Linked DNA regions of Homo sapiens. The protein of the gene in region 2 purifies or fractionates together with the protein of the main gene of each other region. This does not show direct contact. Each region holds a gene or a part of one and is shown on either strand. Other genes may lie near its edges.

Evidence for each region. The genes of interacting proteins can lie anywhere in the genome.
Region 1: the proteins of NUP42 (region 2) and MKRN2 purify together in Homo sapiens (affinity purification with mass spectrometry; 2 studies listed by BioGRID and IntAct, with this or other methods). This does not show direct contact.

Annotation. Positions count from the first base shown.
Region 1 is NC_000003.12:12,567,051-12,574,086, reverse strand, and holds part of MKRN2 (E3 ubiquitin-protein ligase makorin-2), read right to left. Parts: intron 5,213-7,036; coding exon 5,084-5,212; intron 4,017-5,083; coding exon 3,835-4,016; intron 2,019-3,834; coding exon 1,714-2,018; intron 1-1,713. UniProt on the Homo sapiens protein: E3 ubiquitin ligase catalyzing the covalent attachment of ubiquitin moieties onto substrate proteins.
Region 2 is NC_000007.14:23,192,016-23,199,051, reverse strand, and holds part of NUP42 (nucleoporin NUP42), read right to left. Parts: intron 3,214-7,036; coding exon 3,137-3,213; intron 2,373-3,136; coding exon 2,286-2,372; intron 1,880-2,285; coding exon of another isoform or gene 1,805-1,879; intron 1-1,804.

The DNA.
Region 1 (7,036 bases), on a different chromosome or scaffold from region 2:
TTACCTCTTGATTATCTAGGAATACGCTGTCCATTTAAACATGCCTTAGGCCAGGTGCAGTGGCTCACACCTGTAATCCCATTACTCTGGGAGGCCATGGTAAGAGGACTGCTTGATCTCAGGAGTTCAAGACCAGCCTAAGCAACATAGCAAGACCTCACCTCTGAAAAATAAAATAATTTTTTTTTTTTTTTGAGACAGAGTCTCTCTCTGTCGTCCAGGCTGGAGTGCGGTGGTGCAATCTCAGCTCGCTGCAAGCTCCACCTCCTGGGTTCAGACTATTCTCCTGCCTCAGCCTCCCAAGTAGCTGGGACTACAGGCGCCCGCCACCACACCCAGTTAACTTTTTGTATTTTTAGTAGAGACGGGGTTTCACCATGTTAGCCAGGATGGTCTCAATCTCCTGACCTTGTGATCCGCCTGCCTCGTCCTCCCAAAGTGCTGGGATTACAGGCGTGAGCCACTGTGCCCAGCCAAAATAAAATAAAATTTTAAAAGTTAGCCAAGCCACCACACCTGGCATTTTTAAATTTTTTTATTATTATTTTTCTTGAGACAGGGTCTCACTCTTATTGCCCAGGCTGTAGTGCAGTGGCACAATCTTGGCTCACTGCAACCTCTGCTTCCCAGGCTCGGGTGATCCTCCCACCTCAGTCCTGCCGAGTAGCTGGGACTACAGGTGTGCACCACCACACCTGGCTAATGTTTGTATTTTTTTTTTTTTGTAGAGACGGGGATCTTACCATGTTGCCCAGGCTGGTCTCAAACTCCTGGGGTCAAGCAATCTGCCTGCCTTGGCCTGCCAAAGTGCTGGGATTACAGGTGTGAGTCACCATGCCTGGCCCTCCCCCGCCTCTTATCCAGCTTCGTACCCTCTGCATCATGCATAGGGCCTAGCATAAGGCAAAGCCTCCCAAAACACTGCAGACATTAATGACTTTAAAAGGCCCTTCCAACAAGTGGCTCCTCAGATTCTATGATTTGGGCTCAAATCTTCCAAAACTTCACCTAGCTGGATCCCAACCATGAGGAAGTGTGAACCCAGGGAGGGAGGATGCTGTATCTGCATGTGATAGAGACATACACACAGACGACATACCATGGTCCTGAGCTAGATCTGTTCTTTGAACTTAGCATGATTTTATATTTCAGATACGACTTCTTTTTCTCTTTATTCTGAGTAATTAAAAATTGGCAAAATAGGCCGGGCATGGTGGCTCATGCCTGTAATCCCAGCACTTTGGGAGGCCAAGGCAGGCGGACAACTTGAGGTCAGGAGTTCGAGACCAGCCTGGCCAACGTGGTGAAACCCCATCTTTCCTAAAAATACAAAAAGTAGCCGGGTGTGGTGGTGGGCGCCTGTAATCCCAGCTACTCGGTGGGGCTGAGGCAGGAGGATCACCTGAGCCAGGGAAGCAGAGGTTGCAGTGAGCCGAGATTGCACCACTGTACTCCAGCCTGGGTGAGAGGGAGACTCCATTAAAAAAAAAAAATGGCAAAATGACTGCAGGAAAAAGAACCTGAAAACAGGATGTAAATATACCAGATACATAATATGGGTATTACTGGCAGGGGGATGCCTGTGGAAATACCAACAATTCTGTCACTTAGTACATTTCAGATTTCTTGAGTGTATATGGATGGCCTTCCGTGTCCTGTTCAGTACATTTCAGATTTCTTAACATGAGTTCATGCAAAGGTTTGTGACTTTACCTTTTCATGAGCCTTCCTCTGCTCTGGGTCGAATGGGTGCAAGACTTGCAGCCTACAGATTTCACACACCTCCCCGTGCAGGTAGACACAGGCATCCCCAAACCGGCACTCCCCAGCAGCTGCGTAGGGGCACAGCTGCTGCTCGTTGCTGTAGGAGCTGCTGGCCTCCACGTCATCAAGGCCACTCCTGATGGCATCCAGGTAGGAATGCGGCTTCATCTCGGGGCTGGGCTGGGGGTCGCTGCAGCTGCCTGGATTACTCACCATGCTCGGCTGGGTCTTCCTTTCAGCCATGCCAGAGAGATCTGAAAACAACACACAGCACACATGCACATGAAAATGGCCCCATTTTTCTGGTATGCCGTTAGCCAAAGCCTAACATATTAAGCTACTCTGACCTAAGAATTCCACTCTTGAGAACATATGGCAAAAAAAACACACCGAAGGGGAAAAATAAAAGGAATAGTATAAAATGTTCATAGTGACATTACTTATAATTACTTAAAAAAACAAAAAACAAAAAACAAAAATGGCAAGACAGGGAAATAGCAAAACAATAGGATATACTTATACAAAAGAACACTAAAGCCGTTTAAAATGGCAAATATGGAAATGTTAACACATGGACCAGTTAACACTAAAACAAACAAAAAAACAGTGAGAGCACTAGAACACAGTGTTTCCTTCATACCAGCAAAGGTAAAATCATTTTAAGTGAACTAGAATAGATGTCTAGAGCAAATCTGTGGGTCCTGAGGCCAGTGTAAACTGCCCCATGGTCACCCCTTCTCACGCCAGGAGCTGCTGCCTTCCCACTGCACACCTCCGAGCTTGTTTAGAGGTCACGTATTCTCACAGGATTACTCATTTGCTGAGGACAGAATCTGCCTACCTCATGGTAGCCAATTCCAAGAACTAGAAATCTCTTCACCTGGTGAGGACCAGCCAATAAAAACAACTTTTATGGCCAGGTGCAGTGGCTCTTGCCTGTAATCCCAGCACTTTGGGAGGCCGAGGCGGGCGGATCATGAGACCAAGAGTTTGAGACCAGCCTGGCCAACATAGTGAAACACTGTCTCTACTAAAAATACAAAAATTAGCTGGGCATGGTGGTGGGCACCTGTATTCCCAGCTACTCAGAAGGCTGAGGCAAGAGAATCCCTTGAACCCGGGAGGTGGAGATCATGCCACTGCACTGCAGCCTAGGCGACAGAGCGAGTCTCCATCTCCAAAAAAAAAACAAAAACAAAACAAACAAAAAACACAACAAAAAAACTTTTACAATTTGTAGCTTTCTTCCTCATCAAACCCTGTTTTAAGGCACAGACCATGCCCCAAACCCTAGTGTGCTATTCTTTTCCCAAAGGTGCAATCTAAACTGTCAAACACTGTCAGCATAAAAACTAAGACCATTCACTGGCCTAAAAGTCAAACAGTGAAACATGCTCTTTAGCAAAATATTTAGTTTTCTTTTTTTTTTTTTTTTTTTTGAGAGGGAGTCTCACTCTTGTCATCCAGGCTGGAGTGCAGTGGCGTGATCTCAGCTCACTACAATCTTTGCCTCCCGGGTTCAAGAAATTCTCCTGCCTCAGCCTCCCAAGTAGCTGGGATTACAGACACCTGCCACTACACCCGGCTAATTTTTGTATTTTTAGTAGAGACAGGGTTTCTACTAAACCATGTTGGCCAGGCTGGTCTCGAACTCCTGACCTCAGGTGATCCACCCGCCTCAGCCTCCCAAAGTGTTGGGGTTATAGGTGTGAGCCACTTTACCCAGACAAAATATTTACGTTTGAAATGAAGAGCTTGATGCTTCTCACCAGCTGGACAACCACCATATGAAGATGGAAGTTACATGTTGACAAAAAGATTGTGTTTTTATGTTTTACCAGGCCAGTCTTGGAGCTCAACCCAGCCTTGGGCACGAGGGCGAATGTATCATTTGAATGATCTGCAGCCACATGGAGCCTCTTCAGAACAGTTCTGAAGTCTCTCCGCGCAGACAATCTGGAGGTGTATTAGGTTAGGAGTCCTCTTGACAAGAGGAGGCTAGAAAGGAGCACCAAGCATTAACAAGAGTGCTATGCAAAAAGACGCAACAAAAGGCTTCCGCTTACTCACTTCGGTCTCTAAGAACCAATGTTCTCTTTTCACGCTTTCCGGGTTCATGTGAGTTAGTTTTCACAATGGATGCAGTGACCTCGGAAGGAGGGTGAGGACTGTGGAAAGCTGGGGAGGGCACACTGTGGGCCATGGTGCCCACAGCACCTCCAGCTGCAGCAGAGGGCCTCGTGTGGTCATATCTAAACAAAACACACAGCAGATGCATTACAGACATGCCACCCACACACATCTCCCACACTCCCCAGATGCCAATGGCCCTCCTTCTGCTGCACTTGTTGAGGTGAAGAAGGCGGCCATCTTTTCCAATATTTAAACTCTAACAGGATTATCGATTATTAACAGATGCTTGGCAATTCATTGTGAGGGGGACATTTGCTATCTATCACCTATGCTTAAGTGTCTCTGTGGGACTTGAGTGGGACAGACACACAGCACCAGACCACACAGAGAACCTGAAAGTTCCAAACAGATGTTGAGCTAAAATCTCCTGATGCCTGACTGACCCAGTATTCTTTTGAGCAGGAGTCCCCAAAATGCTGACAAGGGCCAATGATCTCTCCCTGACTGTCTCTCTTGGCACTCATTGACAGGGGAAGACCAACGTGGGCCTACTTCCATCATCTCCCACTGCACTGCAGAGAAAAAGGAGGGAAGGAAGCTTTGCAGTCTAGAAAGAAAAGATCGGCTCTTTGCTACAAAAGCATGAACAAGTTTCCGGAATTGTGTACAATTTTATAACTATATATTCATAAGAATAAGGCTGAAAAGTAGTTTTAAAAAATGAAAATTAGGCCAGGCACGGTGGCTCACGCCTGTAATTCCAGCACTTTGGGAAGCTGAGGCGGGAGGATCACGAGGTCAGGAGTTAGAGACCAGCCTGACCAACATGGTGAAACCCCATCTCTACTAAAAATACAAAAAAAAAAAAAATCAGCCAGGCGTAGTGGCAGATGCCTGTAATCTCAGCTACTTGGGAGGCTGAGGCAGGAGAACCCTGGAGGCGGAGGTTGCAGAGAACTGAGATCGCACCACTGCCCTCCAGCCTGGGCAACAGTGAGAGACTCTATCTCAAAAAAAAAAAGAAAAGAAAATTAGTTTTAGGGTACTGAAACTGAGGTTTTAAACTTATTTGCCATACTTTTTGTGATGTTGCCATATTACTTTTACATTAAAATTTCCCCCTTATCAAGACCCATTCTCCAAATGAAATCAGTGTCACAGCTGGAATCTGTTGCAGAGTCCTTGCCTGCACCGAGTTCCATAGGCACAGTAGCCCTTCTGGTAGTACTTGCAGATGGTGGACGGTTTGCTGTTTGCCAAGTCATGTGAGAATAGGCACTGACTTCCTTCCCGACACACACCATGCATAAAATACCTGCAGAGACAAGCACAGGCATACAACTTTTAGAAGCACATTTTGCTTTATAAAATCAGCTTATTCTTGAACTTAGCATACAAACATTTACCAGGCATATATTATGTATAAAGGCTCTATTAGGCACTGGAGAGAGATCTATATATTTCCTTGATTCTACAACAGTGATTTCAGAGGCACTACAACTGATTCAATGACAGCTTTTCTGAAAGAAAAACAAATGATCCCATATATTTCTATGTGAAGATATATCTTCCTGATTTGAGATATGTTCAATGTGAGCCACATAATTGAGAAAACACTCTGTGAAAAACTGTTCTCTCTGTTCTCAAGGAGCTTAAAGGGCATGACTAACGAAACCAGAAGATCTGGGCTCAAGACCCAGCTCTGCCACTTAAGAACATGTCACAAAACCAACTTCCCTGGGCCTTGCTACCTTTCCCTATAAAATGAAGATTATACTACCCACTTAACTGGTCGTGGTGAGGATCAAATACCATAGTGTGGTATCAAAAGATATACACAGATGCTCCTTGACTAATGATGGAGTTACATCCCAATAAAGCCACTGTTTTTTGTTTTTTGTTTTGAGATGGAGTCTCTCTGTCACCCAGGCTGAAGTGCAATGGCACAGTCTCAGCTCACTGCAACCTCTGCCTTCCGGGTTCAAGCGATTCTCCTAGCTCAGCCTGGGCTACCTTACTTATGCTTAGAACACTTACATCAGCCTACAGTTGGGCCAAATCATCTAACACAAAATCTATTTTACAATAAAGTGTAGAATAATCTCATGCAATTTATTGAACACCGTACTGAAAGTGAGAAACAGAAAGGTTGTATGGGTACTTGTAGTTTTTAATGAAAGCTGTTTCTCATACATTGTTTCAGATGTTTCAGAATATCAGATGTATCACATGTTCTGTATCAGAATATTCCACTGAGATATCAGATCCTGGCCTTGAAGAATAAGTGGTACAGGAATACCTGGGAGGCTAACTCTGTCCAGACAGGGTAGAGAGACCTGAGTGAATACTCAAACAGTAGAGACCCTAGATGAACATGTCTTGATATTAAAGATAAACTAGGCTGGGTGTGGTGGCTCACACCTGTAATCCTAGTACTTTGGGAGGCCAAGGCGGGCGCATCACCTGAGGTCGGGGGTTCCAGACCAGTCTGACCAACATGGAGAAACCCCGTCTCTACTAAAAAAAATACAAAATTAGTCAGGAGTGGAGGTGCATGCCTGTAATCCCAGCTACTTGGGAGGCTGAGGCAGGAGAATCGCTTGAACTCAGGAGGTGGAGGTTGCGGTGAGCCGAGATTGCGCCATTGCACTCCAGCCTGGGTGACAAGAGCAAAAACTCTGTCTCAAAAAAAAAAAAAAAAAAAAAAAGATAAACTAGCCAGGGCAACAAAGGGAGACCCTAAAATTTAAAAATTAGCCTAGCATGGTGGTATGCACCTGTGGTTCAGCTACTCAGGAGAGTGAGACAGGAGGATTGCTTAAACCCAGGAGTTCAAGGCTGCAGTAGCCATGATTGTGCCACTGCACTCTAGCCTGGGTGACAGCAAGATCCTGTCTCACAAAAGAAAAAAAAAAAGTAAACTAGTGTTAGAGTAGAAGTATTTTAGACACACCCTAATAAGGCTTAAAAAAAAAAAACACAAGCTGATAGCAAGTATATAACTTACTGTCAGCCAAAACAAACTTTAAAGGAAGACAATACAATCCAAATGCTCAGAAACTCACAATGCTTGGCATCCAATCATAAATTACTAGATATGCCAAAAAGCAGAAAATAATGTGACCTATAACCAGGAGAA
Region 2 (7,036 bases):
AAAAGGATAAGACATAATACTGTATAAACAGTATAATCACAACTAGTAATATGAATATGCATAAAAAATGTACATTAGTAAGTTAACAGTGATTATCTCTGGCTGATAAATTACAGGTGATTTAAATTTTATTTATGCTTTTTTATACTTTCTAAATTTCTACAATGAGCAGATATTATAATCAGAAAAATATTTTTAAATTTTTTTCAGTGTCTATAAGGGTAGATCTGCATTTATCAAGAAATCTAGATATTAGGTAAAAAGGACCTTTATAGAATACCCAGTCTAATACTCGAAGTAGATCCACTATTATATAATTAAAAGCTTATGACTAAAAATCCATTAAACATTTCCCATTCCCTGAAAGTACTTTATGTTCTTGCTGTTCTGTGCTCTAGAAATGTCTTTCATCTCTGCTTACTGAAATCTTAATCCTACTTTCAAGGAACTTTGTATTTGCTCCTTCCTTTCAAGAAGACTTTCTTAATCATCCAAAGCAAACATAAGCGATTTCTTTCATTTGGAAGCCTCAAAAGCATTCTTTGGCCGGTGTGGTGGCTCACGCCTGTAATCCCAGCACTTTGGGAGGCTGAGGCGGGCGGATCATGAGGTCAGAAGATCGAGACCATCCTGGCTAACATGGTGAAATCCCGTCTCTACTAAAAATACAAAAAAGCTGGGCGTGGTGGTGGGTGCCTGTAGTCCCAGCTATTCGGGAGACTGAGGCAGGAGAATGGCGTGAACCCGGGAGGCGGAGCTTGCAGTGAGCTGAGATGGCACCACTGCACTCCAGCCTGGGTGACAGAGTGAGACTCTGCCTCAAAAAAAAAAAAAAAAAAAAAAAAAGAATGCTTTTGTTTTTGAGACTGCAACCTCTCCTGGGTTCAAGTGATTCTCCTGCCTCAGCCTCCTGAGTAGTTAGGATTACAGGCGTGTGCCACCATGCCTGGCTAATTTTTGTATTTTTAGTAGAGACCGGGTTTCACCATGTTGGTCAGGCTGGTCTTAAACTCCTGACCTTGTGATCCGCCTGCCTCAGCCTCCCGAAGTGCTGGGATTACAGGCGTGAGCCACTGCACCCAGCCCTCAAAAGCATTCTTGCTCCTGGTCCCTGGCAACCACTCTGTCTGCTTTCTATCACTACAAATGAGACTTGTCTTTTCCAGAGTTTCATACAAATGGAATCACATGGTCTACACTATTTTTTTTTTTTTGGTCTGGTTTCTCTCCCTCAGTGTAATATTCATTAACAGGCAGATGATAAACAAATTATATCCATACAATGGGTTACCATTCAGTATAAAGAAGGCATGAACTCCTGATACATGTTAAGTCAGCTATGGGTGGGTTGTCCCACATTCTAACCTATGGAAGGGGCCCTGGGCAGTTAGCAAGGAGCAGGGACCTTCCAGCCCTGAGGGAAGTTCCACAGTTCTTTGGACTCAGTTATCCTTTCTCCATCAGCTCTCATCCATGGTGATGGTGGGCCACCTCTCACACAAGGACAGACTACTTCCAAGAGGTCCCACTAAATTCAAATAGCATTACAAGAACTAAAAGATGAAAGAAATTAGCTTGCACAAGAGTCTAGTTATTCAGGAAGCACATATTTAAGAAAGGGGTGGGGTGTTGGGACTGTCAACCATTCACTAAGTGTAGGGAGACATTACTCTCATATCCTTATACAGAGTAGAAACCATCTGAGAAATTGGAAATATTAAAATTATAAATGTGAATATCTTATTTTAAAATAAAATTCTTAAGAACTTTTTAATGGGTGTAGAAACATCATAACTTTATTTACAAAGATAATGAACTTGCCACAGTCGGGACCATAGATCTTTGGAGACAGGTGGGTATATATCTTCCAAAGGCATTTCTGTTTAAGACAAGGAACATACTGTGTTCTTCAGTCGCAAAACGATACATTACATTCTAAATGTGCATTCATATAACTGTTCAAAGTAATTTCTTTTTACATACAGATAACCTTAAATACTTAAACTTATGTAATAGTTTGCCATTTTCAAAACTAGCACTACCAAAGTTAAAAACTTTACCCTAAAAAGCTTTTAAAAAGCATAACTATTTCTGCTTTTCTGACCAAGGAACACAGAGAAAACTATTTCAAGACCCTGACTCTTAAGTGATGCTATTTTGGGAATGTGTGTATCATAATTCTTGATAGAAAATTTTTGTTTTGCTTTCCAAATCTAAAGTAAAATATCCTCTGCAAAAAAGCAATAGGTAAGACACTTCCCTCAAGAAAACTCTCCCATACTCACCAAAGCTACTTTAGTTGATATATTTAGACTTTTCAGTTCATTTACCCTGTTCCTCCATTGATTTATTAAACGTTGGACAGAATTTAGCTGAAAACGGAAGACAGAAAAATAACAGTTCAATATTGTATGTTTAAGTTAGTTTCTTCAATAAAAACTTCACATACTTCTTTGCCAAAATCACAAAAGGTTTATGTAACAGTTTTATGGCCCATGACTTGCAAAATTTGCATTGACTTGGCCTATTTGTCAAAGATATGCCAGCTCCAGTTCCCTCTCCCGTTCAACTCCTTGTATCATCTGGTTAGTATCACAAGTACCTGGCAGCACGTAGTTAGTTATATTTGGATGGGCGGTGAATACATGTACTAGTTGAAATGCATGATCATGACTGTAGAAACAGAAAAATACAGCATTTAAACTGCTTCCTTCAGGTACTCAACTTATTCTAGTCAAGATTTTTAATTTTTTTTGATATTTGATATATGAGGATGTTAATCTGTATTACAGACTGTATCTTATTTAACTTTGTTTTTCTAGCATTCATCACTGGATTGGTACCTAACAGATGTTCAATAAATATCTGTCAAATGATAAAAGGGTTTCATTTCTGGGATTGACTGTTGGGTAATTTATAATAAAAATAGTAATATTCCTAATTATTAAAGTAAAAATATATTATCATTTTAATAACCAACCAAATTCAATGAAAATAATATAGAAAAGAAAAATAGCCTACTCCTGAAAAAAGATCATAGACCTCATCGGTTTTGCCAAAACACAAGCCACGATAAAGAAAGCAGTAATTAAGAGCTCATCTGTTATTGCAGTAGATTAATAGGAAACAAACTTACATAACTCTGTAAGTTATTGCTGGTTAAGAAGTTATGGTATTCAAGCCTCAATTCCTCTGGTGAAATGTCTGTAAAACCTGAAGTGAGGAATCAATCGGAATCTTTAAAATAAATGCCAATAATTTTGATAGTAAAGCTAGAGGTGCTAAACAAGAAAATATCTAATGTTGATTAGAAAATTTTCATAACCATGAGGAAGAAACTTAAAGCCTACACTCTACTTAATGTTTAATAAAGTGTAAAATTACAGTAAAATATAGTTGGTTATTCTGATCTTTAAATGGGGAAGATTTTCTAAAGATAAGTGGCGTAGAATGAACAACAAACACAGGAGAAAGATTTGACTACATTTATATTCAAACTTTTATTTTAAAAATTCTGCCAGAAACTATACTAAGCAAAATTACAAGGCAAATGGTACACTAGGAAAATTGCAATTTTAACATATATGACAAGAGAAGAACTAATGCCCTAATGTACAAATAGCTCTTACAAATAAATGAGAAAAGTAAATGAATTTGGGCAAAGATAATGAACAGGCAATTCACACACAAAAAAAATCAAATAGTAAATAAATGAAATAAAGTTAAATGCAACTTAAAATAGAGATAAAATGCTTTACTTATCAGACTGGCAGAAATTTTAAAAGCTGGTATTTACTGTTGTTCCAAATGTGGTGAAATGTATCATTTCCTAAATTACCGTTAAGGGAATTAAAATGGTACAAGTTTTCTGGGAGGGATAATTGTTAATAAGCATCACAAGCCTGAAAAACATTCATATCCTGTGACTTATAATACAATTTATAGGATTTAACCTTGGGAAATAGTTATATATGTAAACAAAGGTTGCTATGTATAAGGGTGTTCATTCTAATATTTTTAGTACCAGAGACAAACTGAAAGCAAAAATTAGAATATAAAACTAGGGCCGGGCACGGTGGCTCACGCCTGTAGTTGCAGCACTTTGGGAGGCTGAGGCGGATGGATCACGAGGTCAGGAAATTGAGACCATCCTGGCTAACATGGTGAAACCCCCTCTCTACTAAAAATACAAAAAATTAGCCGGGTGTGGTGGCATGAGCCTGTAATCCCAGCTACTCGGGAGGCTGAGGCAGGAGAATTGCTTGAACTTGGGAGGCAGAGGTTGCAGTGAGCCAAGACTGCGCCACTGCACTCCAGCCTGGGCAACAAAGCGAGACTCCGTCTCAAAACAAAAACAAAAACAAAAGCAAAAACAAAAAAAACTGGATTACAGCCGGGCGCGGTGGCTCACGCCTGTAGTCCCAGCACTTTGGGAGACCAAGGCCGGTGGATCACCTGAGGCCAGAAGTTCAAGACCAGCCGGGCCAACACGGCGAAACCCTGTTTCTACTAAAAATACCAAAATTAGCTCGGCGTGGTGGCATATGCCTATAATCCGAGCTACTCGGGAGACTGAGACTGGAGAATCGCTTGAACCCGGAAGGCCAGCCGAGGCTGTAGTGAGCTGAGATGGCGCCACTGCACTCCAGCCTGGGCAACAAAGAGCGAAACTCTGTCTCAAAAAAACAAAACAAAACAAAAAACAAAGAAAAACTAGATTATGATCCTAATCATATATATGTATACGTATATATGTATAGGTGAGAGGTGACAGCTTGCTGGCAGCCCTCACATTCCTCACTCGCTCTGGGTACCTCCTCTACCTGGGCTCCCACTTTGGTGGCACTTGAGGAGACCTTCAGCCCACCGCTGCACTGTGGGAGCCCCTTTCTGGGCTGGCCAAGGCCTGAGCTGGCTCCCTCAGCTTGCAGGGAGGTGTGGAGGGAGAGGCGCGAGTGGCAACCAGAGCTACCCAGGGCCCTTGCTGGCCAGCTGGAGTTCCGAGTGGGCGTGGGCTTGGTGGGCCCCACACTCAGAGCTGCCGGCTGGCCCTGCCGGGCAATGAGAAGCTTAGCACCCGGGCCAGCGGCTGCGGAGGGTGTGCTGGGTCCTCAGCAGTGCCGGCCCACCGGCGCTGCGCTGGATTTCTTGCCGGGTCTTAGCTGCCTCCCTGCGGGGCAGGGCTCGGGACCTGCAGCCCGCCATGCCTGAGCCTCCCCCTCACCTCCGTGCGCTCCTGAGCAGCCTGAGCCTCCACGAGGAGCGCCACCCCCTGCTCCACCGGCACCCAGTCCCATCGACCACCCAAGGGCTGAGGAGTGTGGGCACACACCGCGGGACTGGCGGGTAGCTCCACCTGTGGCCCTGGTGTGGAATCCACTGGGTGAGGCCAGCTGGGCTCCTGAGTCTGGTGGGGACTTGGAGAACCTTTATGTCTAGCTAGGGGATTGTAAATACACCAATCAGCACTCTGTGTCTAGCTCAAGGTTTGTAAACACACCAATCAGCACCCTGTGTGTAGGTCAGGGTTTGTAAATACACCAATCAACACTGTATCTAGCTACTCTGGTTGGGACTTGGAGAACCTTTGTGTCCACACTCTGTATCTAGCTAATCTAGTGGGGACTTGGAGAACCTTTGTGTCTAGCTCAGGGATTGTAAACGCACCAATCAGCACCCTGTCAAAACAGACCACTTGGCTCTCTGTAAAATGAACCAATCAGCACGATGTGGGTGGGGCCAGATAAGAGAATAAAAGCAGGCTGCCCCAGCCAGCAGTGGCAACCCGCTCAGCTCCTCTTCCACACTGTGGAAGCTTCGTTCTTTTGCTGTTTGCAATAAATCTTGCTGTTGCTCACTCTTTGGGTCCACATTGCCTTTATGAGCTGTAACACTCACCGCGAAGGTCTTCAGCCTCACTCCTGAAGCCAGCGAGACCACGAACCCACTGGGAGGAACAAACAACTCCAGACGGGCCGCCTTAAGAGCCGTAACACTCACCGCGAAGGTCCACAGCTTCACTCCTGAGCCAGCGAGACCACGGACCCCACCAGAAGGAATAAACTCCGAACACATCTGAACATCAGAAGGAACAAACTCCGGACACGATGTCTTTAAGAACTGTAACACTCACCGCGAGGGTCCGTGGCTTCATTCTTGAAGTCAGTGAGACCAAGAACCCACCAATTCCGGACACATAGGTATACATATATACACACATAGAACAACTTATACATCCCTGTACAAGTGGACCCTTGCAGTTCTGTTCAAAGGTCAACTGTACACACAGCTGTACAGGGTCCACTTGTACAGGGGCCACTTGTACAGGGATTTTCTTCCGCCTCTGCCACTCCTGAGACAGCAAGACCACACCCACCTATCCCTCTGCTACTCAACATAAAGACAATAAGGATGAAGACTTTTATGATGATCCACTTCCACTATGTGAATGGTCAATATATTTTCTTATCCTTATGATTTTCTTTTTCTTTTTTTTTTTTTTTTTGAGATGAAGTCTTGCTCTGTTGCCCAGGCTGGAGTGCAGTGGCATCATCTCGGCTTACTGCAACCTCGGCCTCCTGGGTTCAGGCAATTCTCCTGCCTCAGCCTCCACAGTAGTTGGGATTACAGGCATGCACCACCAAGCCCGGCTAATTTTTTTTGTATTTTTAGTAGAGATGGGGTTTCACCACATTGGCCAGGTTGGTCTCGAACTCCTGACCTTGTGATCCACCCGCCTCAGCCTCCCAAAGTGCCGAGATTACAGGCGTGAGCCACCGCGCCTGATCCGTTATGATTTTCTTAACATTTTCTTTTCTCTTACAGTACGTTATTAGTAGTTAAGCTTTTGGGGAGTCAAAGCTTATACGTGGATTTTTGACTGCACAGAGGATCAGTGCCGCTAAACTTTATGTTGTTCAAGGGTCAATTGTATACATAAACAAGAAATATGTTTGTGTGTGTATATGTTTCGAAAGAAATATACTAAAATGTAGTAGTTACCTCTGTGATATCAGGTTATTTTTATTTTATTTAT